Linked DNA regions of Homo sapiens. The protein of the gene in region 2 interacts with the protein of the main gene of each other region in a pairwise test. Each region holds a gene or a part of one and is shown on either strand. Other genes may lie near its edges.

Region 1 (5,985 bases), on a different chromosome or scaffold from region 2:
TGTGTCCCCTCGTGGCGTGGCCTCACTGGAAGGTCACCGGGCGTGGGGGTTTGGGCCCGGGGCACCCGCCCACCCGCACTGTCCTGACAGCCTGTCTTCTCCCCCACTGCGCGCTGCACGCCGCCAGAGTGACGACGAGGACCAGGGGCACCCAGGGAGTGGCTCAGATTAAGTGTGAATGTCATGGTGAGCTCCGTGGCCTCCTTGACCCCATGGCCCCAGCTGACCCTTGCCACAGACCCTCCCTGTGTGTCTGTCCCTGCCTGTAGTTGACGAGAGCCGTCCGCACTCCATGCCAGCTGTAGATCCTCAGTAGCACTGTCTTGGTGGTGGGGCTGTTGCTGTGAGGCAGATGCCCAGGGGCAGTGTTGGGGCGTTTGTTGGGATGACTGGAGGGTGCCCGTGCCAGGCCAGGCTGTGGACATCAGTGGTCGTGAACCCAAGAGCCCCTCCTGGGGGCTGGGCAGGGAGTGCCACTCGTGCCGCCAGCCCTAGTGGGTGACCTTCCTGTCTGGCTTAGGCCACAGGCTCAGGGCCAAGGGGTCAGGACCAGTGCGGCAGACAGCAGACCCCTATCTCAGCTGCCAAATCCTGCGGCATCCCTGATGCGCTTAAGCCTCCCAGGCCAGCCGTGTCCTGCAAGCCCCTCAGCCACCCGGGCCTGCCTGCCTGTGGGGGTGTCTGGCCATGGGGTACAGCCTCAAGGGCCCCCTGGTTGGTGTCTGCAGTTGGACCTTCCTGTGGAAGATGGCCTAGGGAGACAGTGTGTCCAGAAAAGATGGGTCTCACCCCAGGCTCTGTCTAGAGTAGCCCGTGCTGCTCCCGGCCTTGGGAGGGCGAAGGACAGCACTTTGGCTGCAGGTCTCCAGGGTGTCTCCTGCCCTCATCAGGAGGGAGCTGTTGGGGCTCCCGGATGCTCAGATGCCACACTGCTCCTGGCCTGTCCGCTGCGCTACTTAGTTTTACACAGGGCTGGTGGGGGCTTGGGGGCTGCACTGTCTCCCCAAGTCAACTCCAGACATCCCAGTAAACTTGGGAATCACCCTGGCCCAGGGAGGGACGTGCTGCCCCTCGCACAGGGGGATGGGCTCCTCCGAGGCACTGGAGAGTGAGTGGGAGCCTCGAGCTAGAAGTGGTCCAGGGCACTGAGCCTGGGGGGCACCCGCCTGGGAACGGCAGAGCTGTTGGGGGGTGGAGTATTGGAGTCAGGCTGAGCAGCTCAGGGGACGTGGCCTCCAGGAGCCTTCGGAACAAGCCTGGGGTGGCATGCACCTCTCACCACTGCCCTCTCTCCGGTCAGTGCGGCATGGCAGTGACCTCTGGGAGGCTGTGCCCGGCGAGGGCGTGGGCGTTGCTGCCCTACCTGGTGTTGGGCAGCCCTCACGTGACACATGGAGACAGCTGTTGTGGGCCACGCACAGTGAGGCTGGCTGGCTCCGAAGCTCTCTGCTCGGGAGCGTGGGGTGATTTCCCCTCCACCTGGTCTCTGGAGCTGCCATGGCTCATTTTGGGAGTTCACCTCAGCAGCATTGGCCAGCGCCTGAGCCTGTCCTCAGGGGAGCCCAGGCCGACTTGGGGGTGGCCTCAGGGGGTTCCTGGACACTGGTGAGGGAAGTGGGGAGGGTACCTTGAGGAAGAGTTTTGAGGAGATTGGAGGGTGGGGAGGGCAGGGGGCCGAGGGGCCGTGGGCTCTGCAGGGCTGACGTGGTACAGATGAGGAGGGGATCCCCGCAGCGTGATCTGCACTTGGGGTAGGGCCCTCTGAGGGCTGGTGGTTGTTCCATGGGGCAGTCGGGAGGGGCCAGCACATGAGGTGGGCTGGCCAGGCTGAGGTGCAGGGCCGAGGGCTTGGGTGAGGGGCATCTCCAGGAGGGTCCGGGCGTCGGGGTGGGGGTGGGGGCTGCAGTGGGCATGGAGGAACAGAGGGAGAGACTTAATTGGGGAGGGGGGACTGGACTGCTGAGGGACCCGCGGGCCGAGTTGCGCTTCATGTCTGAGGCCCAGGACTGAGTGGGCTGAGAGGCCCAAGAGTCAGCGCCTTTGGGTGGGTCTGGGAGGGGCTGCCATGCACAGTGAGCGCTCCCTGTGTGGGGCCTGGAGATGTGCCAGACACCCCGGTGAAGGTCCTGGGCCTGCCAGCTGAGTCCCCAAGACCCTGGCCAGTGCCGCTGGGTTCCCGGGGCTCCCCGAGCTAACCCCAGGCCTGTGGGCTCTGTTTTCTGGAGCAGGCGCCTGGTCAGGGACACCTCCTCAGCCCAAGTCCTCATTTTATGCATTTGGTGTTTTTCAGATTTTGCAAGAACGAGGCTCAAGGATGTGAGGGACACAGTATTGACAGCTGAAGAAATGATTTACGTTTTCCCGAGATGTAATGAACTGCCATGTCCAGGAAGCTTGGCTGTGAGAAGAAACCTGCTTTTGATCATTTTTCTAGAGATCTGGGTGTGAATCCTTTTTTGCCTCTGAGGTGGGTGGTGAGAGACGGGCCCAGCTGTCCAAGGCCAGACGTCCCCAAGTTGGGGGAGCACGGCGGCCGGGTGGGCGCTGCCTCTTGGGGGGGCCTCGCTCTGTTTTTTCCAAGTGCCACGTGGGACTGAGGCAGACACTCCCAGTCAGCCCGCTCGATCCTGAAGATCGTGTGAAGGAAGCGTTCTTGGTGCTACACACAGTCTGGAAAAGCAGCCTGGGCTTCACTGGCAGGAAGCGGCCGCAGCCGCGTCAGTGTCCAGCACGTCGTGGCCTCTGGTCCGACCACCAGGCCCTAGTCTCGGTCAGGGAGTCTGCTCTGCCTCCCAGGCGGGATCGCTGGTTTCTCTCGACCTCGCAGAGCTCCTGACAAAGGCGGCTTCTGCGTCGTCACTGCTTCCCGGCGCCATTCCGAGGCCGGGCCTTCTTCTGACACGGGCTCCAACCCCACCTGACCAAGCCCGGGACAGTCAAGGCTTCTCAATTTGTATTTTCCAGGCAAGAGAACTTTGTACCCCTTCTCTGTGTGGATAGACTCCCCAGCGTTTTTCCTCTGGAAATGCCCACAGGGCTTGCCGCGTGGAGACTGATCTGTTCCATCCGTTAGCGCGAGGTAGCAGTGTCGCCTCGCCCCTCCCACTGCGGGCTCACGGGGAGCTGGCGTCTGTCAGTGCCTTGTCACGCCTGGCATAGAGGTTGGGCTGGAGGCCTGTCCACTGGCTTCTGGAGCTGAAGGTCTGCGTCACGGTGAAAATTCGGGATGTTTACAGAGCATCACAAATGCCTCTCTCTCGCCGCTCTCTCATTTTCTTTGTATAACTATGCAGCCTTCCCTCTCTTTCTGGGATGTTTGGGACTTCACTCGACCTGCACGGGCTCTGCCCGACATGCCGTGGGAGCTGCTGGGATTCCTTTAGAAACCGCTGCCCGCATGCTTTGAAAACAGACCTTTCTCAGCTGGCTGTGGGGACCTGTCAGAGTCTGGGGACTCGGCGTGCAGGGCGGGCTCCAAGCGCTTTGCTTCCGGAACTCCGGCTTCCCAAGGGGTACTGTGCAGACTGACCACCGGCCTCCCGCCTGCAGGTCAGAGGCTCTGACACTGTCTGGTTTCCAATGCTTCTGGAGACTTCCTGCCTAGGCCTCATCCTCCTCTTTGCCAGTCACCTGATTAACCAATTCTCCAGCATTAGGACTTACCTCCTTCTTTTTGTAAGGTCTCTTGTATGTTGTTAAATGTTTGGCTTAAACAATTTATAAAAGCCTTTCTAGAAGGCAGACTTAGCCCCAGCAGAGCCTGGGAGGAAGGCGGCCGCTGGGGCTCCTGGGCATCCTCTCTGGGGAGCTGCTGGCCGCTTAGCGTTGTTTGATTTTTGACCTTGACATAGTAGATAGGCTTGTGGTTTTTTTAATTTAAAGATATTAAGACTTAATTCACTAAAATTTATTCTAAGGGGATATTTATACTTTTATACTTTTTTAGGTATCGTATTTTATCAGCTTACAGTTTAATGCCTAAGTTTCCCCTGGAAATAGCAAATAAAATTGTGTATTTATGAATGCGCGTAGTAGCTGTTTATGGTCTTAAGATGCAGGGGAATGCCACCCCGGGTCGCTCGGACCAAGGTGCTGCCCCTCCAAGCCGCCCAGCCCCACTGGCCGCGGCGGCTCACTCAGGGCTCTGCCTCTGCCTCTCAGTCGATGGCCAGGGCGGAGCTGGGCCATCCACGGGGTGCCGGCTTGGCCAGGGTCACTGGATCAGAGCTGCACGGCCCATCCCTGCACCCCACTCTGCCTGGACCCCTCACCTACCTCCAGCAGATAGCATACCCCCATCCCGGGAGACCGGAGACCATGTACAAGGGCCTTTTTTTTTCCTTAAGAGACAGGGGTCTTGCTATGTTGCCCAGGCTGGTCTTGAACTGCTGGGCTCAAGTGATCCTCCTGCCTCAGCCTCCTGAGCAGTTGGGATTACAGGCGTGAGCCATTGCGCGCGGCTCAAGTGATGTTTTTTTGAAAGTCCTGATACCTCAAGTTAGCATCCACCTCTCTTCCCTCACTTTAGCCTGCAGCCTGGGTTGTGACAGCAGGAGCTTCCCGAGAAGGTCCTGGGGTCCCGGCACCCCCTCGCCAGCTGCTGTGACTCCTCCTGGTGGCTGCTCCACGAAGCCTTGGCTGTTGGACTCCCCGCCCCCCCGCAGGGAGATTCCCATTCACGGTGTCCCCCAGGGCCTGGCTGTCTGAGGTCACAGAGCCTCAGGCTGTAGTGGCCTTGTCCATCCTGTTTCCAGGTGTGTGGCTGGCCCAGCCTGACCCCAGGGCCCTGGTGAGGGGTGGAGTGGGTGACTGGGCTTCTGGGTGCCCAGCATGAGGCCGGCACGGGGCTTGGAGTAGGGGAGAGACCCAGTTTCTGCTCCAAGGGGTCTTCCCGCTGCCCGACTCCCACCAGGAGCCTGGCTAGGCCTTACAGCCCCTTGACCAGGTAGAGTTGTGGGCACTTGGGAGAAGCCTCAGCGTGGCAGGCGTCCCCAGCCAAAGCCCGGAGCAGGTTTCCCATCCAAGCAAAAGGCTGTAAAGGAGACAGGCCCTGCAGTTTGGGTCCTGAAGCCGAGGATGCTCAGGGCCGCTGGGTCTGCTGGGCAGGGAGGGAGCCCTGTTCCTCCTCAGACCTTGGGCTCCAGCACAGCCCGCCCGCTGTGGGGACTGGGGCCCAGCCCTGTGGCTCCAGGAAGCCAGCGTGGGGGCAGAAGAGGAGGCAGGGGCGGGGCACATGCAGGTGCCCTGCGTGGGTGCCCGTCCTCCCCAGGCTTCCTGTAGAGCCCATGACTGGAGCCCTCCAGCGGCTGGCACCACCCTCCTTGACATCCCTGCATTTATTGGTGTCCACTCAGCAGGGACTTCTAGCACCCTCCTTCCTCCTAAAGCTCGTGGCAGTGGCCGGCTGGGGCGATGAAGAGCTGACCCCACAGTGCAGCCACCAAGGCCCTGACGTGGCATCTGTGTGAGGGACGATGACTTCCGGCACCTCTGCACTGAGCCGTGCCCCCCAAGATGGGTCACTTTGCCCTCAGACCACCTCTTCCTCCCCAGTGTTCCCAGGCCTGGGGCTCGGCACAGGGAGGCCTGGCCTGTGGCTGACCCCTCACCGCAGTTCTGGCCCGAATGGAGCCCACAGACTTCTTTCCTGGGGCTCCCGCTCCTGCTCTGTGTGTGTGTGTGTGTGTGTGTGTGTGTGTGTGTGTGTGTGTGTACCTACTGGCTGTACATGGTGTGGGTGTGGTGTGTGCCTGTGTGCACATGGTGTGTGTGGCATGCACATGTGTGCTGTATGTGATGTGTGGCATGTGGTGTGTGCTTGGTATGTGGTGTGTGCCTGTGTGTGGCATGTGACATGCATGTGTTGTGTGTGCCTGTGAGTGGCATGGGAATGGTGTGTGTATGTGTGCACATGGGCCAGCTGAGCCTGGGGATGAAGGCTGCCGCCCGCTCTGCCTACCTCCCTGTGAGCCACAGAATGTGCGC
Region 2 (8,844 bases):
GAATTTATTTTTTTTCTAAGAAATATTTCTATATATTCTTCTTATTAATTTAGGTGGTTATTCCATGATACTTCTCTATTTTAATGCGTGTTTTAATTTTTAAGGTGGAACAGAAATTGTCACAGAGAGTGAGTACACCAGTGGACATTCAGTAGCTGGAGTGCTTGACCAGAGCCGAATGCAGCGGGAGAAGATGGTTTACATGGCAGTTAAAGATTCTTCTCAAGAAGAAGATGATATCAGTAAGAAAATAAGGGCACTGTAGTGACTTATCAGTAGCCATCATGCATTATTTTTAAAAAATCTCAGAGATACAAGCACTGTATAGGAACAAAGTTCAATAAAATAAGCCTGATCCTTTGACCCTTTGCTGTAAATAATTTAAAAGTGAAGGGTCCTTTTGACCATTCATTTGTACATGTATTGTTCAAATCACCAAACATTAAATAATATATCTTAGTATACTATACTAGAAATACAGAGATGAACAACATACAGCTCCTGACATCAGTGAAGCTCAAAAATATGTAATTACTGAGTACCTACTTTCTGTGCGTTACTGAATATGTTGCAAGATACTATCTCATTTAATTCTTACAACTCATATCTGAGGTAGGTGGTATTTTTCCTGTCTTATGGAAGGAAAAAAAAAGATTCAGGGAAAATAATTTATCCAAGATCATTCCAATATTAAGTGTGAAGGGCAGGATTTTAATGGTTATCTAACTCCACTGCCAATGTTCTTTCCACATGGCAGTGGGCACTGTTGGCTTCTCTCTGGATTTAGCAATTGAAGGGCTGATGGTTTGTTCTCCTGTCACTAAAGGGTTATCTTATGTAAGTATTCTTCCAAGCCAAGCTGCCAGGAGTTTGATTTCCTATGCTGTTGATGGTCTCCAAGCAGTTGCTGCTTAAGGTTTTGTGGGGCTAAGTACCACAGGACGATCAAACCTCCTCAGGTTTCCTTTCCTGCCATACCGCAGGTTTCCTTATGAAGACATTTTGCTCTCTGCCTACTTTCTCCTCACCTCAGTATAGGAATGCAGCCCTTTCCTAAGGCTATTCCTGTCTTCTTACTATGCTGAGAAAAACACAATATTGCCTTGCCCTAGAAGGCTAAGAGCCTCCATTTCACTGCATTAACTTGACAATATTGGGCTTTACCTGTGCTGCACTCTGATACCTACTCCAAGTTTCCTTCCCTAGAAGTTGTAGGGTGCTGAATTCCACCCCCAAACAGCTGAAAATATCAAAACAAATGAGTGGAGAAGATTCTGATGGATAGGAAAAGAGTTTAATCAAATAATTTCTATTTGATCTCTAAATTCTTTATTTTTTTATTTATTGGTAAGGAAAGGGGCACAGTAGGAAATGGAAGATTGAGGTTTAAGTTAACTTATGCCAGAATTCTATGGGAATGTGGGAAACTTAGACCAGTGTCTCTTTTTGGTTAATAGAGAGAAGACAAACTTGGGAGAAGAGGGATACTTTTTTCCCATGTTTTTCCCCACATTTCTTCTGTAGTCATCCAGGATCCCAGTATGTGAATCAAAGGAAAAGCAAAAATTCAAGACAATTTTCTATTTAACAAGTTAAATGTAAACAGATTATTTTATATAAAGTATATTGTGGCTCTCTAGGTTTAAATATTTTTTTTTTCTTACCGCAATATTGTTTTGTTCAATGAAGCTCATTTAATGCTTTCTCTCCTCAGTAGAATCTCTTAAAATCTGGCCTATTGAAGAGTGTCCACATATTCTTGATCACTAGCATTATATACATATATAATTTTTATTTTTATTTTAAATTTTTTTCAATTACAAGTATTTTTGGTGATTTTTATTACATGTATAGTACTGCATTTCATTTATAATACAGTATACGAGATAGTATGGACCACTTTCTAGTATTATTTCTATGAGAAATATTTTCTGAGTCCCAAAAGACTGTCAGGCAAATAAATGTATAATGCCTGATAGAATGTAAGATCATTCAGTATATTTCAAGCGCACATGTTTTTATAAAATTTTTAAAAGCCATTTCCATAGAACTTGGTTCTAAGAGGAGAATAAGAGTTTTGGTAAATGATTGTCTCCTAGTGGCACTAGCCTCCAAAAGTGCCTAATATAAATTGAAATTAAATTTATAAATTTTTAAATTAACCAAACTGAAATTTGAAAGTTGAAAGATTTACATTGTTTGGAATTTTTACCCACTTATTAAATATTTGGGGTTATAAACAAGCAATTATTTCTAAAATTTAGGTTGCGCTGAAATAGCAGATGAAGTTTACATGGAAGTCATTGTAGGGGAAGAGGAAGGAACTTCTCTCCCTGAGATTCAGCTTGAGGACTCTGATGTTAATAAAACAGTTGTCCCTGTTGTCTGGGCTGCGGCATATGGTAGGATACTGGCATTTTTTCACCTGATAAGTACATAATATGTATTTACTCAGCCTTTAGGCCATTAAATAAGCTTTGTGAATGCCACCATGAATTGGCTAATATAATAAAATGTTTTACACTGTGGACTGATTCATCTCTAGTTACTTTAGATGATTTTTCTACCACATACCTTGTACTATTTAAAATGAACCTTGCTTAATGCATTATGTTTTTCAGTATGATCTATTTTAAATCCTACCTGTATAAGTGAGTGCCATAAAAAATTTTATTTTTCTAAAATAGGAATATCCTTTGAAAATCGATCCTTCCTCTTTTGGAAAAACTTATTTCATTTATTAACTCTACAGATGATAAAGTTTTGGGGTTTTGAAAAAGAAACAGAAACCCAGGTATGCTCTTTTAGAAAGCATATAATGAAAGGTAAATTTATCAACTTATTTTTCCCTTTCAGTCTTATTTTATTTCATTCCTATGTAACGTACAAGATGGTCCAGGTATACTCTTTACTTTGAAAAATTTTGATGTTCAAATGCATTAATTTATCTAAACTTGGTTCTTCCAAAGGTTCATTCATTCAGTTATTTATTGAGCATCTTCAAAGTTAGGGGTACACTGCAGAAATATCTACCCAGTTTTCATTTAAAAAGTAAAATTGTTCTAGATGTTAACAATTCCAAGGATGCTGAACAGCAGCCCTTATTTTCAGTATGTGACATTATCTAACCTATAGGAGTGGAAGAACACAACAATTTTTTTTAACCCAAGGAATGGTGGGCAAAGTAAGATTTTGTAGATTAAGATGTGATCCACTAGTAGTCATTATAATTAGCATATCAGTTTGTAATTGGTCTTTTTTTTTTTTTTTTTTTTTTTAGGAGATGAAAGAAGAGTTTCCCGAAGGTATGAAGATTGTCAAGCATCAGGTAAGAGAGCATTGTATATGAGATGTGAGTTAAAGTTCTGGCTTTATTTTATTTTACTGCTTGGTAAGTAACAAGTTTGTGTCTACAGACACATTTGTTGGACTCTTACTTGCTTAGTCATACCTAATCTAGTTAGTTAGGAGTTTCTTCTTTGAGGAATTAATTTATGTGTGGACATAATGTGTGTTAATCTGTAAATGCAGTTCCATTTAGATTTCCCTCAAACTTTAAGCATCAGGCAGTTTATCAAATGGACCATAACAGGTTGCTATGGAAAAAATGAAATAAGAAATTATTTGGACAGAAAAGTAAAAATTATTCATGATATCAACCCCTTGTTAATGTTCTTTTTGGGGCAGAACTGTTTTCTTAATTTCTATGGCAACCAGTGCATTTATATATAACTGTTATATAAAACCCATGTGTCAGCTTAATTTTTTTTAGTTTTAATACACTCTATATGGTGTTGTTCTCTAGTTGATCTTCTTGTTAAGTTTTCTTAAGCAAGGAGATATTTTCTTATGATAATGTGTCATTGTTCTGTTTCTACCCTTGGGAAGTATTTGACTCTCTAAACTTAGGTGTTGATTTCGAGAAATTGATGAGAAGTATAGATCACAGCATGTAAGTTAACCTGACAGTTTTGTAGGTCTACATTTTTTAGCTAAATTGCATAAAACCACAATGGATTTTTGATAACTAGGATTTTATTAAGTACTTTTTAATGTATGCACTGATCACACTGAAATTGCAATAAATTGCCTACCATATGTTAACCCGTAAAATCAATCTTAATATGTAGTACTCTTTATATCAAGTACACTATTCTGAAGCATATCTGCAAGAGATCTGTTTCGTTTTTTATGCATTACACTTAGTCACCATAACTATAATGGTTCAGTAATATGTCTACATTTCTTTTTCAATTAATTTCATCAGCCTTCATTGGTAAAAAAAAATTGGTCTGATGCCAAGATTTTGTTTCAAATTCAGTTTCTTTTCTTTCTTTTTTTTCTTTTTCTTTCTTTCTTTCTTTTTTCTTTTTTTTTTTCAAGAGACAGGGTCTTCTTGCTCTGTTACCGAGACTGGTGTGCAGTAGCACAATCATAGCTCACTGCAACCTTGAACTCCTGGGCTCAAGCAATCCTCCCATCTCAGGCTCCTGAGTAGCTGGGACTACAGGTGCATGCCACCATGCCTGACCAATTTGTTTTTTGTAGAGACAGGATCTTATTATGTTGCCTAGGGTGGACTGAAACTCCTGACCTCAAGCAGTCCTGCCTCAGCCTCCCAAAGTGCTGGGATTACAGGTGTGGGCCATCATGCCCACCCCAAATCCACTTTCTTATATTACATTCATCTTATCAGTTTATTCCTGATAAAATAGAGATATTTTAAATTTAATTGATGATCAAATTGAGATATTTTAAAGTTAATTTCACATGATATCCTATTCAAAGTATTTACAAATACATGTCTTTACTTGTGAGTGAGAGAGAACAAGAGTGAGAGAGAGAAAGAGAATCATAAGATGGATATACTTTGTGAAATTTACTACCAGAGTGGTAACTTGGTGTCATGTCATCTGTAGTAACTCATTCAACAGAACCAAAAAAGTATAAATGTATGTGATTTAATGATGTTTCAATTTTTTTTTCCAGGAAATACTTTGGACTCAGCATTAGAAAGCAGAAGTAGTACAGCAGCACAGTACCTTCAAATTTGTGACGGCATTAATACAAATAAAGTACTTAAACAAAAAGCCAAAAAGAGGAGAAGGGGAGAAACCAGGCAGTGGCAAACAGGTAAATACTTTGCTTTATGAATATTATAATTATTTGAGATGTGGAAGTATTTTTTGTCACCAAAGAAAAATATCGATGGTTTACTTGGCAGTTCTACTCTCCATGTACCTGTTTGTGTATGCTATAGATAATTGTTTTTTTTTTTTTTTACTTTGTGTGACTGGTACTTAATAAAACTATGCTTGTTTGCTCTTTATTCCAAAGATACTTTTACAGAGAATTTTCAGGTTGGTTTAACAATAAAGGGTACCTGTTTTTGGTATTCAAAGTATATATGATATTGCATTTTGGCATGTGAGTGGTTCATAGTAGAGTGCTGCTCATTACTTTTTAGTGAGCTACTTTGCCATAAATTGCTTTTATTATGTATTTTTTATATTACAGGATTTCATTCAACTAGTATTGTTTTCACATAGTGAATGCCAACTAGTTTTGGCACCTTTGTTATAAAATCCTTTAAAACAGTCTGACCAAATGTCACAACTTTCTCTTTTCTTTATCTAGCTGTTATAATAGGTCCTGATGGACAGCCCCTCACAGTGTACCCTTGCCATATTTGCACAAAAAAGTTTAAATCCAGGGGATTCTTAAAAAGACACATGAAGAATCATCCTGATCATTTAATGAGAAAAAAATATCAGTGTACAGATTGTGACTTTACAACTAACAAGAAAGTGAGTTTCCATAACCACTTAGAAAGCCATAAGCTCATAAACAAAGTCGACAAAACCCATGAATTTACAGAATACACACGAAGATACAGAGAGGCTAGTCCACTGAGTTCCAATAAACTTATTTTAAGAGACAAGGAGCCGAAGATGCACAAGTGCAAATACTGTGACTATGAAACTGCAGAACAAGGACTGTTAAACAGGCATTTGTTGGCCGTTCACAGCAAGAATTTTCCTCATGTTTGTGTTGAGTGTGGGAAGGGTTTTCGACATCCTTCTGAACTCAAGAAACATATGAGAACCCATACTGGTGAGAAGCCATATCAGTGTCAGTATTGTATTTTCAGGTGTGCAGATCAATCAAATCTGAAAACTCACATTAAGTCTAAACATGGTAACAATTTGCCATATAAATGTGAGCATTGTCCCCAAGCATTTGGTGATGAGAGGGAGCTTCAACGCCATCTGGATTTGTTTCAAGGACATAAGACACACCAGTGTCCTCATTGTGACCATAAGAGCACCAATTCAAGTGACCTTAAGCGGCACATCATATCTGTCCATACTAAGGATTTTCCTCACAAATGTGAGGTCTGTGATAAAGGTTTTCATCGTCCTTCTGAGCTCAAAAAGCATAGTGATATCCATAAGGGTAGGAAGATTCATCAGTGCAGGCACTGTGACTTTAAAACATCCGATCCATTTATTCTTAGTGGCCATATCCTTTCAGTTCATACTAAAGATCAGCCATTGAAATGTAAAAGGTGCAAGAGAGGATTCAGACAACAAAATGAGCTAAAAAAACATATGAAGACCCATACTGGAAGGAAGATTTACCAATGTGAGTATTGTGAATACAGCACTACAGATGCATCTGGCTTTAAACGACATGTGATATCAATACATACAAAAGACTATCCACACAGGTGTGAATTCTGCAAGAAGGGATTCCGAAGACCATCAGAAAAAAATCAGCATATTATGAGGCACCACAAAGAGGCTCTTATGTAATAAGATCAATATAAAGAAAGAAGCTATTTAGGAGATATGATATGCTACTTGGGAGAAAACTCTCACTAACTGTCTCACCGGGTTTCAAAGCTTGATACTAAACCATGACTTTACATTCTTTGTATTAAAGATCTTAAAATATTTGAATTCACAGGGGATCCCATAGCCCTTTGAAAATTACTTAAAGAATTTAAGAAGCACTATAGAATGGTTACAGAAAAACTTCTTAAGTATCTGTGTAATAGTATTATATGCATACTTAAACTACAGAGGGGAAAAGCAAAGACAAATACTTTATTTGGCTGATTATGTTAGATACAAATGTTTCTGAGAAGAGAATACATAATTGAGTTTAGTGATGCTTTGCTATAGCAAGCAAACCCACTTTTATGCAATTTTAGAAATGGGGCAGGGAAACAAAATGTGGTCATTCATCAGTCACTTAGTCATTGAGCCTTTTATATTGTACCTGGAAATTAAATTCCAGCAATGACAAAAGTTTTGTGTATTCATTAAAAGAAAACTAACTGGAAAACAGGTTAGATTAATTCAGTACTATTAAAAAAGAATTCAGAGCTGTTAATATTTTATCACAGGATAGGATACTTAAAATATAGCATTCTGTGCTGAGATCTAAGGTGAAGTCTATAAAGATTAAAGTTCCCTTTTTTCTGATGTTCAAGTTGATTGTTGTTCAGTATGGCATATATGACAAAAGTATATTTGAGTCAAATGTGGCTTTCTAAAATGGATGCAACATTAGCGTTGCAAACAAAATCAGCACTATATTTCTTAATGATCTAAAGATTAATTTGAGAGAACACAGTTTTCTTAAATATTATAATGTCTAGAGTTTTTTTAGGACAGTCTTAGCAAGTATGATTGTTCTAGTCTTACTTGCTCTAATGTTTAAAGGTGCAATTTTATGCCATTATTGAAATTGATTTTTAAAATCTATATACCATATGATTAACATGCATTTTCAATATGAGGCAGTGTTTATGCAGTATTTAACAGAGCAATCTGCTGCCAATAGAGTTTGGAGGTGGATATTTAGTTTACAGTGTATAAACTTAAAATATGCATCCCTTTAACAACGCTTTGTGTTAGCATGCTGCAAATCAAAATGGCACTTAATATTAAAAGCTGGTTTAGGGAAATTTTATGAAAATCCTGTTCATAAATGTAATGCATATGATATGTACTTTTAAGTTTTAGTTGCTTCATGTTTACATTCAGCTGTTCAACATAATTAAAATGTAATTTTACTTCATGCTATATTGTGGCTTTGTGTTTCAAATAATGTTCACCTTTCTGTTTTTGCACCAGATAAGAATCAGTTCCTTGAGAATAAATTTTTTATCTTTCTTAACTTCAGAATATTAAATTTGGAATATCTACTAAAATTGTGTGTTATGTGGCTGTAAATGATGTACACGCTGTAAAATAAGATCGCTACTGTTATGTGGGATTATTATTTCTAAATGTTACTCATTGAAATGAGCATACAATAAAAAGCATTTATTGCACTTAATGGTTTTATAAGTTTATTTAAAGTTTCCATATTTTTTATTAAAAGACTTCACTTCAGAGTTACTTAGGCAGATTGGTCCTTTCTTTAATGTCTTGTTGAATTTTGTTCATGAACAACAACATGAACTAGGAATTTAAACAGTTACGATGACTATGTAATGCATATTTCTTAAGAATGTATGTTATTTGCTAAAATCATAATGAAATACTATAAATAAAAGTGTCCATTTTAAGATCTTAGATTTCATATTAGAGAGAAAACTAAAAGTTCTTAACTTGCTTAAATGACACAATCCTGAGCAGTGAATACATCTAATTATGTTCCCAATATACATTCAAAAGGAAAAGTATTGTTGTGTGTATTTGGCAAAGATTTCTGCAAATGAGCATAAAAATAACTTTCTATGTTCAAACCAGTGAGCATTTCATATAATTCTATATATATGGCACTGTTAGTTAAGACTCTTTGTCAGTTGAATTATTAATTATTAATTAA
Region 3 (9,977 bases), about 31 Mb from region 2:
ACTACAGGCGTGCACCACCATGGCCGGATAATTTTTTTTTTTTTTTTGAGATGGAGTCTTGCTGTGTCGCCCAGGCTGGAGTGCAATGGCGCAATCTCAGCTTACTGCAAGCTCCGCCTCCCAGGTTCATGCCATTCTCCTGCCTCAGCCTTCTGAATAGCTGGGACTACAGGCACCCGCCACCATGCCTGGCCAATTTTTTGTATTTTTAATAGAGACGGGGTTTCACCATGTTAGCCAGGATGGTCTTGATCTCCTGACCTCGTGATCCACCCGCCTCGGCCTCCCAAAGTGCTGGGATTACAGGTGTGAGCCACCGTGCCGGCCAATTTTTATTATTATTTTATTACTATTATTATTATTATTTTTTGAGACAGAGTTTCACTGTGTCGCTGAGGCTGGAGTGCAGTGATGCAATCTCTGCTCACTGCAACCTCTGCCTCTCAGGCTCAAGCAATTCTCATGCCTCAGCCTCCTGAGCAGCTGGGACTGCAGGCGTGCACCACCATGCCGGGATAATTTTTGTATTTTTAGTAGAGACGAAGTTTTCGCCATGTTGGCGAGGCTGGTCTCGAACTCCTGGCCACAAGTGATCCATCTGCCTCAGCCTCCCAAAGTGCTGGAATTACAGGTGTGAGCCACTGCACCTGGCCTGGCTTATTGTTCTATTTTTAGAGACAGGGTCTCACTCTGTTGCCCAGGCTGGAGTGCAGTGGTACAATCGTAGCTCACTGTAACCTCAAACTCCTGGGCTCAAGCAATCCTCCCACTTCAGCCTCCCAAGTAGCTAGGACTACAGGCACATGCCACCACACCTGGCTAACTTTTTAATTTTTTGTAGTGACAGGGTCCCACCTCACCCTCCCAGAGCAATGGGATTACAGGCATGAACCATCATGCCCAGCCAAAGGAGGTTCACATTTTTTTTCTTTTTCCCTCTGGGAGGTTTACCTTTATCCTTTAATCAGTGTGTGCTTTGAGCATTGGTGAATTAGGTTCTTATGTGATGGCAAGCAAAATCTGGCTTCATAAAAAGCTAGAAGCAGGAAGACCAATGAGAGTACCTTTGGAGAGCTTGGAGGTAGGGAATATGGCTAGCCTTCGGATAAATGTCTTAGTGACACCTTCTCATCCTGTTTCCCTTGCAGCCCGCGTGACCCCAACTCTGCCGAAGCAGGACCGTCCTGTGCGTGAGGGGACCCGGGTAGCCTCTATTGAGACAGGTTTGGCTGCAGCAGCTGCAAAGCTGGCCCAGCAGGTAGGTGCTGACACCCCAGGTCACCCTGCAACTAATAGCAGTTTGACTTAGAGCCTCAACACTTAGACCTGCAGGCTGATAGGATCCCACCTTTGTCTCAATGGGGATTGAGTAACCTTTGATCTTTATCCTTGGCAGTATCCCAGCCCCCTCTTAAATCCCTCTTATCCCAACTCAATGATAAGCTACTTCCACAGGTTACACAGTTGACATGATTCAGGATGAAAGAAAATATTAGGCCAGAGAAAAACCCACTTACCTTTTTTGGTGTGTAAAAACCTCTCAGATGAGAAGGACCAGATCCTTCCTTTGCTCTCATATGAAGCCCTGAGGGGGTGACTCAGCTGAGTACGCTCAAGTTCTCAGCCACCCACCAGTATTGGAATTTGGTTGATTAGAAATTTTTCTTGTCCTCTTTATGAAATAATATTATCTTAATCTTCACCCACAAATTTTTTTTTTGTCCTAAAGAGTGATCTTCACTAGAATCAAATTCATCTCCTAGCATTACATCTAAAAGTTCTTTAATGTGCGTAATGTGCTTAGGAGCCTTTGGAGGTGAATTCTCTGGTTATCTTGCAATCAATATCCCGTTAGCTCCTAATCCCATATCCTATAGCTTAGAGCACTGTTAAGCATCTGCTTTGTTAGTTGCTTCCATATATAATGTGTAATGTAATCTATCTGCCCAATAGCCCTGTTCAACAGGTGATATTTTCATCATTTTATAGGTGAAGAAAATGAAGCTCTCATTAACTGACTCAGGATAATACAGCCAGTAAATGGAGGAGACAACTCAAACTCATATCCTCTAACTTCAAATTTCATATTACTTTCTATTTAAATAAATGCTTATGTAGTTCAGTCATTACATCCTATTTAAATAGTGTTTAAATCTTTGGCAATCTTCTTTGACCAGAACTTCTGTCTCTTATGTATATCCCAATACAGTGTAAGCTGTAATTTGAAAAAGGGGGTTCTACTGTTTTATATAAATATAAATTAAGTAAAGCTGTGAAAATTACTCTTAGTGCCTTTTAAGGAGCTAAATTCTGTTTGGGATGATCAGAGATAACCTCAAAGAAGAGGTTTTGAAATTGGGGAGGGGCTTTGCAAGCTAAGCTTCTGGTAGGGGCCAGGGAGGCATTCTAAAAGAAGGGACTTCCTTCGTATAGCACACAAAGCCCTCTTAAAGTCCTCTTGATTTGGTCTCTAGTCATCTCCCTGACCTCCTTCCAGCCCCTCATGCACACCTTTTATACAGCCATAGTGCACTGCAATACTCATAGTCCCCTCAGTGAGTATATCAGATTGTCTCATGCTTTTGTGCCTTTACACAAGATGTTCCTTTTACCCATTGAGAATCATACCCTATCAGATCCCTTACCTAACAGCCCTTCATACTACCTACCACCACTTTATTTCAGAGGCCTTTTTCTATATGCTTCTACAACATTCGTGGTACTTACAATCATAAATGTATGTTTTGGTGTTTCTTATTAAACTATGAATACTTCAAGAGTGGGAATATATTTAATTTAACTTGGTATCCCCACTATGGTCAGAAAATGTGTTTAGTCAGTATTGGGGTGGGTGGGTGAGTGAATGAATGAATGAACGAAAGAAAGAAACAGATCTTTCTGTATTGGAGATTTCATGTTGGGGAATTAGTTAAAATAAGTAATGATTATAAGAATGGATTCTAGAGTCAGCCTGCTTGGATTTAAATTATGTAATAGTTCTACCATTTGGGCAAGTTAATTTCTCTTTGCCTCATTTCCTCATAGACTTCATTTTAGGATTAAATGAGGTAATGTACGTACAAGCTCTTTTAGAATGGCAGTTGTTATGGAGTAAGTACTATAGGCCTGTTAGCTTTTTTCATCATTATCATTATGGGTTGGCTAAGTGTAAACAGCCAGACTGTGGAAGATCATGAATGTCAGGCCAGGGAGTTTGAACTTGGGCGGGGATCTGCTAACAGCTTTTTGAGCAACGGGATTGGCAAGGTGAAAGTGGTTCTGTCATAAGATGGTCTAGTTGTCTGTGGGAGTATCTGGATAAATTATATGTGAAAGAGATTGGCAGCAAAGGTAGCAAAATTTAGGCTAGTGATCTAGATATGAAGAGGTAATTCTGGATTTAAGTGAGAGAAAAAGGGACAGAAATGCAGTTCCTGGTATGGTTAGAATAGCAGTTTGGCTGAGGGAAGAGATTCTGAAGCCAAATGGCTTGGATGTGAATCCCAGTTTGACCACTTACTGGTCCTGTAACCTTAGGGAAATGACTTAGCCTCTCTGTGCCACAGTTTCTTCATCCTTCAAATGGGATTATAATTCTTACTTCTTGGGTATTTACAAGTATTAAATGAGTAATTATAGAAGAGTGGTTGACATGTATTACTAATATTGTTATTATTGTACCCCAGAAATGCCCGTGGTAGCCACAGCCTGTGAGATCTTCCGAAGGCAGGATTAGGCTTGTGTTGCCAAGAGAAGGCAAAAAAATGTGATCACTGAGTTGGTTTGTGTGGCTGTGTAGCATTTCAGAAGGTGAAGTGATTTACATGCTCTCAGCACCACCTTTCCAGGTTCTCAGGGCTCCAGATGCCCACTATACAAGTGTCCACCATGCAGTGGATAGTAGATCCATAGGGCAGTGGATGGTTGAAATACAAGGTATTGGGAGAAGTGACACAACTCCTTATTTGTCATTCCCATCCCCAAAGTGAGGTTTTTAGACCCAGTGACCTGGAGGATTGTCAAGCCCACTGTTAAAAGAAAAAGACCAGCAAGAGGAAGTGAAGCCATTATAAGAGATGAAGATAGAATAATAATTAACCACTTGTCGAATATCTACTATGTGCTGTGTATTTTTATGTCATCACTTAATCTTTTCAAAAATCCTAAAAAGCAGATATTATTTTACCTGTTTTATAGATGAGGTAGCTGAGATTCAGAAAGGTTAGTCAGTTTGACCATAGTCATCCAATTTAGGGACACAAGCCTGGATTTGAACCAGATTTATCTCATTCCAAAACTAATAATCTTTCTAATCTTTCTACGCTCAGATTTTCCACTTTGAGAAGTTTGCAAGGTGTCTCTTCAGATAGACCTGGTTAGATAGTGGTCCCAACTACTTTTCAGCTGTGAGGCTTTGGGCTCAAGTTACTTAATATCCCTGCACTTCCATTTTCTCATATGTAAAATTAGGATTTTTTCTTCTTAGAGCTGTTATGAGGATTAAATGAGATAAAGTATATAAAGTGTCTCAGCTGCTGATGTAAATTTAGTTATTATCATTAGACGTGTCCAAGGTCTACCTCATTAGTGGCAACACTAGGACCAAAATCCTAGTCTCCAAATTCATTTACAGCTTTCTTGGCACTGTACTAATAAGTGACAGTGGTGACTTAAGGATGGATGGTAACAAAGAGATGATCTCAGGTATTGGAAGGCCTGTTATGTGCTGTGTGTACATCCAGGCTAGACTTGGTGCAGGTAAGGGAGAGGGTGGCAGGTTGCACAACCATATTGGACATTGTCTAGTTAGTTCCTTTCCTGGGAACTTGTCTTCTTCACTCCTTAATCTCTCCTCCTACTTGGCTTGTGTTTCAGGAGCTACAGAAGGCCCAAAAGAAGAAATATATCAAGAAGAAGCCTTTGCTGAAGGAGGTAGAACAGCCTCGCCCTCAAGACTCCAATCTCAGTCTGACAGTACCAGCCCCCACTGTGGCTGCCACACCACAACTTGTCACCTCCTCCTCACCCCTGCCTCCTCCTGAGCCTAAACAAGAGGCCCTGTCAGGAAGTCTCGCTGACCATGAGTACACCGCTCGTCCCAATGCCTTTGGCATGGCCCAGGCAAACCGCAGCACCACACCTATGGCCCCCGGTGTCTTCTTGACCCAGCGGCGCCCTTCAGTTGGCTCCCAGAGCAATCAGGCAGGACAAGGTACAACGGCCATATGGTTGTAGAACCGAAGGATCTTAGAGCCACCTGCCCTAAATCCTAAGTGCTCTAGTAGATGACAATACCAGGGAGGGACACTGAAGGCCAACCTAAGGTGCTTGGATTTGATCTTATGGGCCATGGAGAGATGTTGACTGATTTGAAGTACAGACAAGATCAGGTTTTAGTTTTGAAAGATCCTTCTGGTGGCCAGAAGGAGGTAGAGGGTGGGCTAGAGATGGGAACTCTAGGGAGGAGGCACATATACAAGTTCAGGCAGGCAGGAAGAGTACCTGGGGCTCTGCCAGAGGGAATGGAGAGGAAGGAGATGAACTGATCAAATATGGAGGCAGTCAAATAGGACATGGGAGGGGATTTAATGTGGGGAGACAGAGACAACAAAGAGTTAGAGGACTGAAGCCTTCCTTTCCCTCACTTTGGTCCTCAAAGCCCAGTCCCTAGAGTACGCAGCTCAAGGGCATGGAGGTTGGTGTGATGTTGAAGGCTGATGAAGATGAGAGTTTCTAATGAAGCAAGGCCCTAGGGATGGCAACTTCAGGGACACTGAGCTCTAATCACTAACCAGGCACTTGTCCAGTCCTGGTGGGTAGGATAAGAGGGTATGGAAGTACATTTACCTCCCTGCAGGATCTTGGAAGGAAAATGATTGGGACCAGAGTAATCAGTGGAGAAAAAGAACTAGACAAACTGTAATCAGGGAGTCTTGCTGCTACAGGAGGTCATAGGAGGAAGAGTCAAAGCATGTGGTGTTGGTTGGAAGTAGTTAAGGAGGGCTTCCTGCCCAATATGGTCTAAGGATGGAGAAACTTTGTGGGTAGAGAAACAGGAAGGGGAGGTGGCCTGAGGGCAGTTGGTGCCAGATTTGATGTTGAAGCCCTTGCCAAAGCCCTTGCTTACTTTTCCCTTCCCCCACAGGAAAGCGTCCCAAAAAGGGCCTGGCCACAGCAAAGCAGAGACTCGGCCGTATCCTGAAAATCCACAGAAATGGCAAACTACTTCTGTGAGCCCTCCTGTGTCCCACCCCTCACCCCTTTACCCCCATTGCCTTCTCCATTGTCAACTCTTGGGGCACTCCTGGATCCTATCTGCCCTGGACAAGGTGCTGAGGTGCATTGTCCTGCTTTCTTGGGACTTACCAAAGGCACGGACCCCTCCACCGACTCCTTCTAGTTCCCTTCCCCACTTTCACTAGAGCATCCTGCCTGCCTTCTCCACTGAGGAGCAGGTAAATGGGAGAGGTTTCCAGCTGACTAGAACCCTCTTTTCTACTCGTCCAAACCACTCCCGTCACCTGCCTTGTCTGTTCTTTATTCTTCATCCCCCGCTAGAGCTGGAAGGCAGGATGAGGAGAGGTATGAAGGAGCCTGAGCCATGAAGTGGGAAGCCCAGTGCTTGACACTTTCTGCAACTCTAGCCCTATATCCAGAAGCCTGCCCACCTCCACCCATTCTGTTTGCCCCATTTCCCCAGTCCAGTGGACATGCCCCACCTCCAGACTTGCTCATGGGAGAAGGCTGTGGTCTCTGCCCCCTCTTGCCAAATGCTTCATGGAAATGAAGAGGAAGGCCTAGAGCCTCCTTCCTGCCCCACTGTGGGCCATTTCCAGAAGTGGCCTAGAAATGCCAACTTCACTTACCTTTCAAAAGAAAGGTGATTCCTATCACTTGTCAAGGTAGGGAGAGGTCAGATGCCCAAGCCTTTGACCACGGTTTTGTAGCCTGTTGGAGGAAGCTACTTTTAGCTGGCTACACATGAGGCCACTTGTTTTAGGGTGAGCTCCAGGGATTTGCCTGGATTTTGAAATCATGTAGAACATTATCCACGTGGCTGTGGCTGTGGCTGTGGCTGGGCCCTGGCAGGTGGAAAACCATCTCCCAGAAACCTGAAAGCACCTGCCAATGACGCAGATAACCCTGGCCCTACAGCCTGCTTGCTCCGCCTATACCACAGAGCACAGCCTGGACATTATGGAGGGTGTGGCGGGACGGCCCACACCTGGGTCCTCCATCGGGAACTTTTCATGCTTCTTTCTCCACCTGAGGTCTTGGTCTGAAGAAGACCTCAGGACTCACATCTTCACTCCTGGGCCTTTGCACTTCCAGACGACAGGTCATCGTTCAAGCAGAATGCAGACAGGCCATTCACGAGCCCAAGTTGAAGAGAAGAGACGCCCATCCGTGAAGGAGCAGACCATCCATCCGATCCTCCCCTTCCCCTGTCCTTCCTTCGTGGATTGTCTCCATTGTCCAGACAGTGCCCCCACCTCCCACCGCCTTGCCTCACTGGCAATCTGGACTCGATGGAGAACATCCCCCCACCTCCATTTGGCACTACCCAAGTGGAGTGTACCCTTGCCCTTTCCACCTGTACCACCCACTCCAACCTCACCCCAGCTTGCCCAATGCTTCTGGGGAATTTAATAGCTACCATGCAGGCCACAGGGAATTTGTGAGGCTTCTTTTGTCATCTTTGTATCTCCAGTTTGTCTTTCTTTTCTCCATAGCCCTGCCTCTACTTTCCTTCCTTGGAATCAGGGGTTCCTTTAGCCCATTTGCTTTCTCTACCTTGGGGACCCCAGGGGCCAAGCAGTTCTCCATCTAGTCACACCAAAGGCAAAAAGCCTGGCTACCTCCCCCCTAGCACGTGAGTCCCTACTCCCCTCCCCTCTGTTTCTGCCCAGCTTTGCTTATTTTGGGGATTTCAAGGCAGCAGAGGGTAGTGAGGGGAGAGCAGGAGAAGCCTCTGTCCTGTATAGGCAACTGCCTGACTATGCGGTGACTGCTGTAACCAAGATCAGGTCCCCAGCCCTTTTGTCCATTAACACCCCTTCTTGATCTTTCAAAGGCAGCTAATTGCTAGCAAATCCCCCCGATTCCGGCCTTTTCCCTCTATTTCTTTGTTAGAAGTTTTCTGTGGAGCTGAAACCCAGCCTCTGTTTGACTGGGTTTCATTTAGCTTAGTTGGGTTCTTAGAGCCCCCTGTTTGTTGTTTTGTGTTGTTTCCAATGAAAAGCAAGTTTACCCTCAGAGTTATGCTTTTCCAAAGAGGCTGATGTCTTTGTTTTTGTTTTTTTTAATGTTTCAGGTTCTAAGTGAAGTGAGTTGGGGAGGGGTTGGGAGTGTTAGTAATCAAGGTTTAGAACACCATGAGATAGTTACCCCTGATCTCCAGTCCCTAGCTGGGGGCTGGACAGGGGGAAGGGAGAGAGGATTTCTATTCACCTTTAATATATTTTTACAAAAAAAGCAAACAATTTAAAAACAAGCCCACCGCTTCTGTACATGTCTAAATATATTTTTAGAAGTGGGTAGGATTGTGAATTTCTGATGCAGGGCCTTTTTATAAATAGGTTAGGGTAGCATCATTCAGACTTCTCTGTTGTTTTTGTCCCTGTCTTTTTCTTATGTTGTGTTACTAATGTAATTTATATTTTTTTTAGATCCTCCCTTTCCTATAGAGATAAAAGTGATTTATCTTGGCAATTGCTTTGCTTGGCATTCTTTTTTTTTGTGATGAGGGTGGTGGTGTGGTGCAGGGTCTGGGAGTGCTGCCTTCTCCTTGTACTCTTTGTCTCTCCCTCAGCAAGTTGTCAGGCATTTCCCTGGTGCTCAGCCTTATGCTTGAAGTGGGAAGGGTATTCCCACCCTCAGGAGGGACACGCTTCACACACCTGAAGTAGATCATCAGAAGCAGACTGAGCAGAAAAGAAAGGGTGCAATAATTCAAAGGGGCCTAACAAGTTCAATGGGAGGGCTTTCCAGAGACTGCTTTTTCAAGTGTGTCCTCTTTCTGTGAATGTGGGATTTTTTTTTTCTTTCCCTCTCTCTTCCATGCACTTGTTGTGCAATCTGGACTTGATTACTGTGCTTAGGGCCAGTACATGGGTTAGAAGAATATAATTATCAGAGCTTGTTTTCACGATTATCGCACTTGTTTTCTTGTGCCAGGCACTGCTCTTAATACTTTATTGATTCATTTCATCCTCACCAACACCCTCATCCTGCCAGCGAAGAAACAAAGTAACCTTCCTGTATCATACATGAAAATTCTGGGACCAACCTGGTTCCAGAATGTGTATTCTTACCACTCTGTTCTACCACTTCTCACTGATAAACACTACCATTATATTAAGTGCCTTTTGGGTGCCAGGCATTGGGCTAGGGATTTTACTTAGGGATATCTCATTTAATCCTCACTGAAAAACCCCATGAGGATATTCGTCCTATTTAACAGTTTAAGGAGACTGAAGTTTGCCAGTGGTCTGCAGCAGGATCTGCCTGATTCCAAAACTTATGTTCTTTGCCTTCACCATATTAGAAAATCTTCTGAGGCTCAAGCACCCAACAGATCTTTATTAAGCCTCTGTTATGTGCAAGATGCAGAATTGAGAGTTATCTCCTAAGGAGAGCTCCCAGGGTGATCTTGGGAGCCTCAGTTTCAAATTCACCACCACCCTGACTCTGTGGGTGAGCCAGGGCAGGCTGCTTACTGTCTGTGGGTCATCTATTAAAGTATTTTGAACCCAGTCAAGATTTACTTCCTCCTGGAGATTCTGCTTCTGTGGGTCTGGAGTGAGGCTGTCTGGTTTTGGCACCTACTGGTTAAATGACCTCCTCCAGTTCTCACAGTCTGTCTCAGGAGTAGGTGGGGTTTTGATAATGTTCATGTCTGAAGCATAGAGAACTGTATTTCCTGGTAGAAAGGAAACAGGAAAGAAGGGCTTTAAAGCCTTTGCAGGAATGATGGG

Evidence for each region.
Region 1: the proteins of ZNF711 (region 2) and KCTD5 interact in a two-hybrid assay, tested with the Homo sapiens proteins (one study listed by BioGRID).
Region 3: the proteins of ZNF711 (region 2) and PHF8 interact in binary tests that used the Homo sapiens proteins (3 or more experiments, as listed by UniProt).

Annotation. Positions count from the first base shown.
Region 1 is NC_000016.10:2,705,008-2,710,992, forward strand, and holds the end of KCTD5 (BTB/POZ domain-containing protein KCTD5), read left to right. Parts: intron 1-2,290; coding exon 2,291-2,320; 3' UTR 2,321-4,023; downstream 4,024-5,985. UniProt on the Homo sapiens protein: Its interaction with CUL3 suggests that it may act as a substrate adapter in some E3 ligase complex. Does not affect the function of Kv channel Kv2.1/KCNB1, Kv1.2/KCNA2, Kv4.2/KCND2 and Kv3.4/KCNC4.
Region 2 is NC_000023.11:85,265,014-85,273,857, forward strand, and holds the end of ZNF711 (zinc finger protein 711), read left to right. Parts: intron 1-104; coding exon 105-242; intron 243-2,264; coding exon 2,265-2,402; intron 2,403-3,280; coding exon 3,281-3,328; intron 3,329-4,989; coding exon 4,990-5,133; intron 5,134-5,637; coding exon 5,638-6,815; 3' UTR 6,816-8,344; downstream 8,345-8,844. UniProt on the Homo sapiens protein: Transcription regulator required for brain development.
Region 3 is NC_000023.11:53,935,415-53,945,391, reverse strand, and holds the end of PHF8 (histone lysine demethylase PHF8), read left to right. Parts: intron 1-1,148; coding exon 1,149-1,258; intron 1,259-1,989; coding exon of another isoform or gene 1,990-2,028; exon of another isoform or gene 2,029-2,777; intron 2,778-4,875; coding exon 4,876-5,212; intron 5,213-6,145; coding exon 6,146-6,234; 3' UTR 6,235-7,332; coding exon of another isoform or gene 7,333-7,411; 3' UTR 7,412-8,712; downstream 8,713-9,977. UniProt on the Homo sapiens protein: Histone lysine demethylase with selectivity for the di- and monomethyl states that plays a key role cell cycle progression, rDNA transcription and brain development.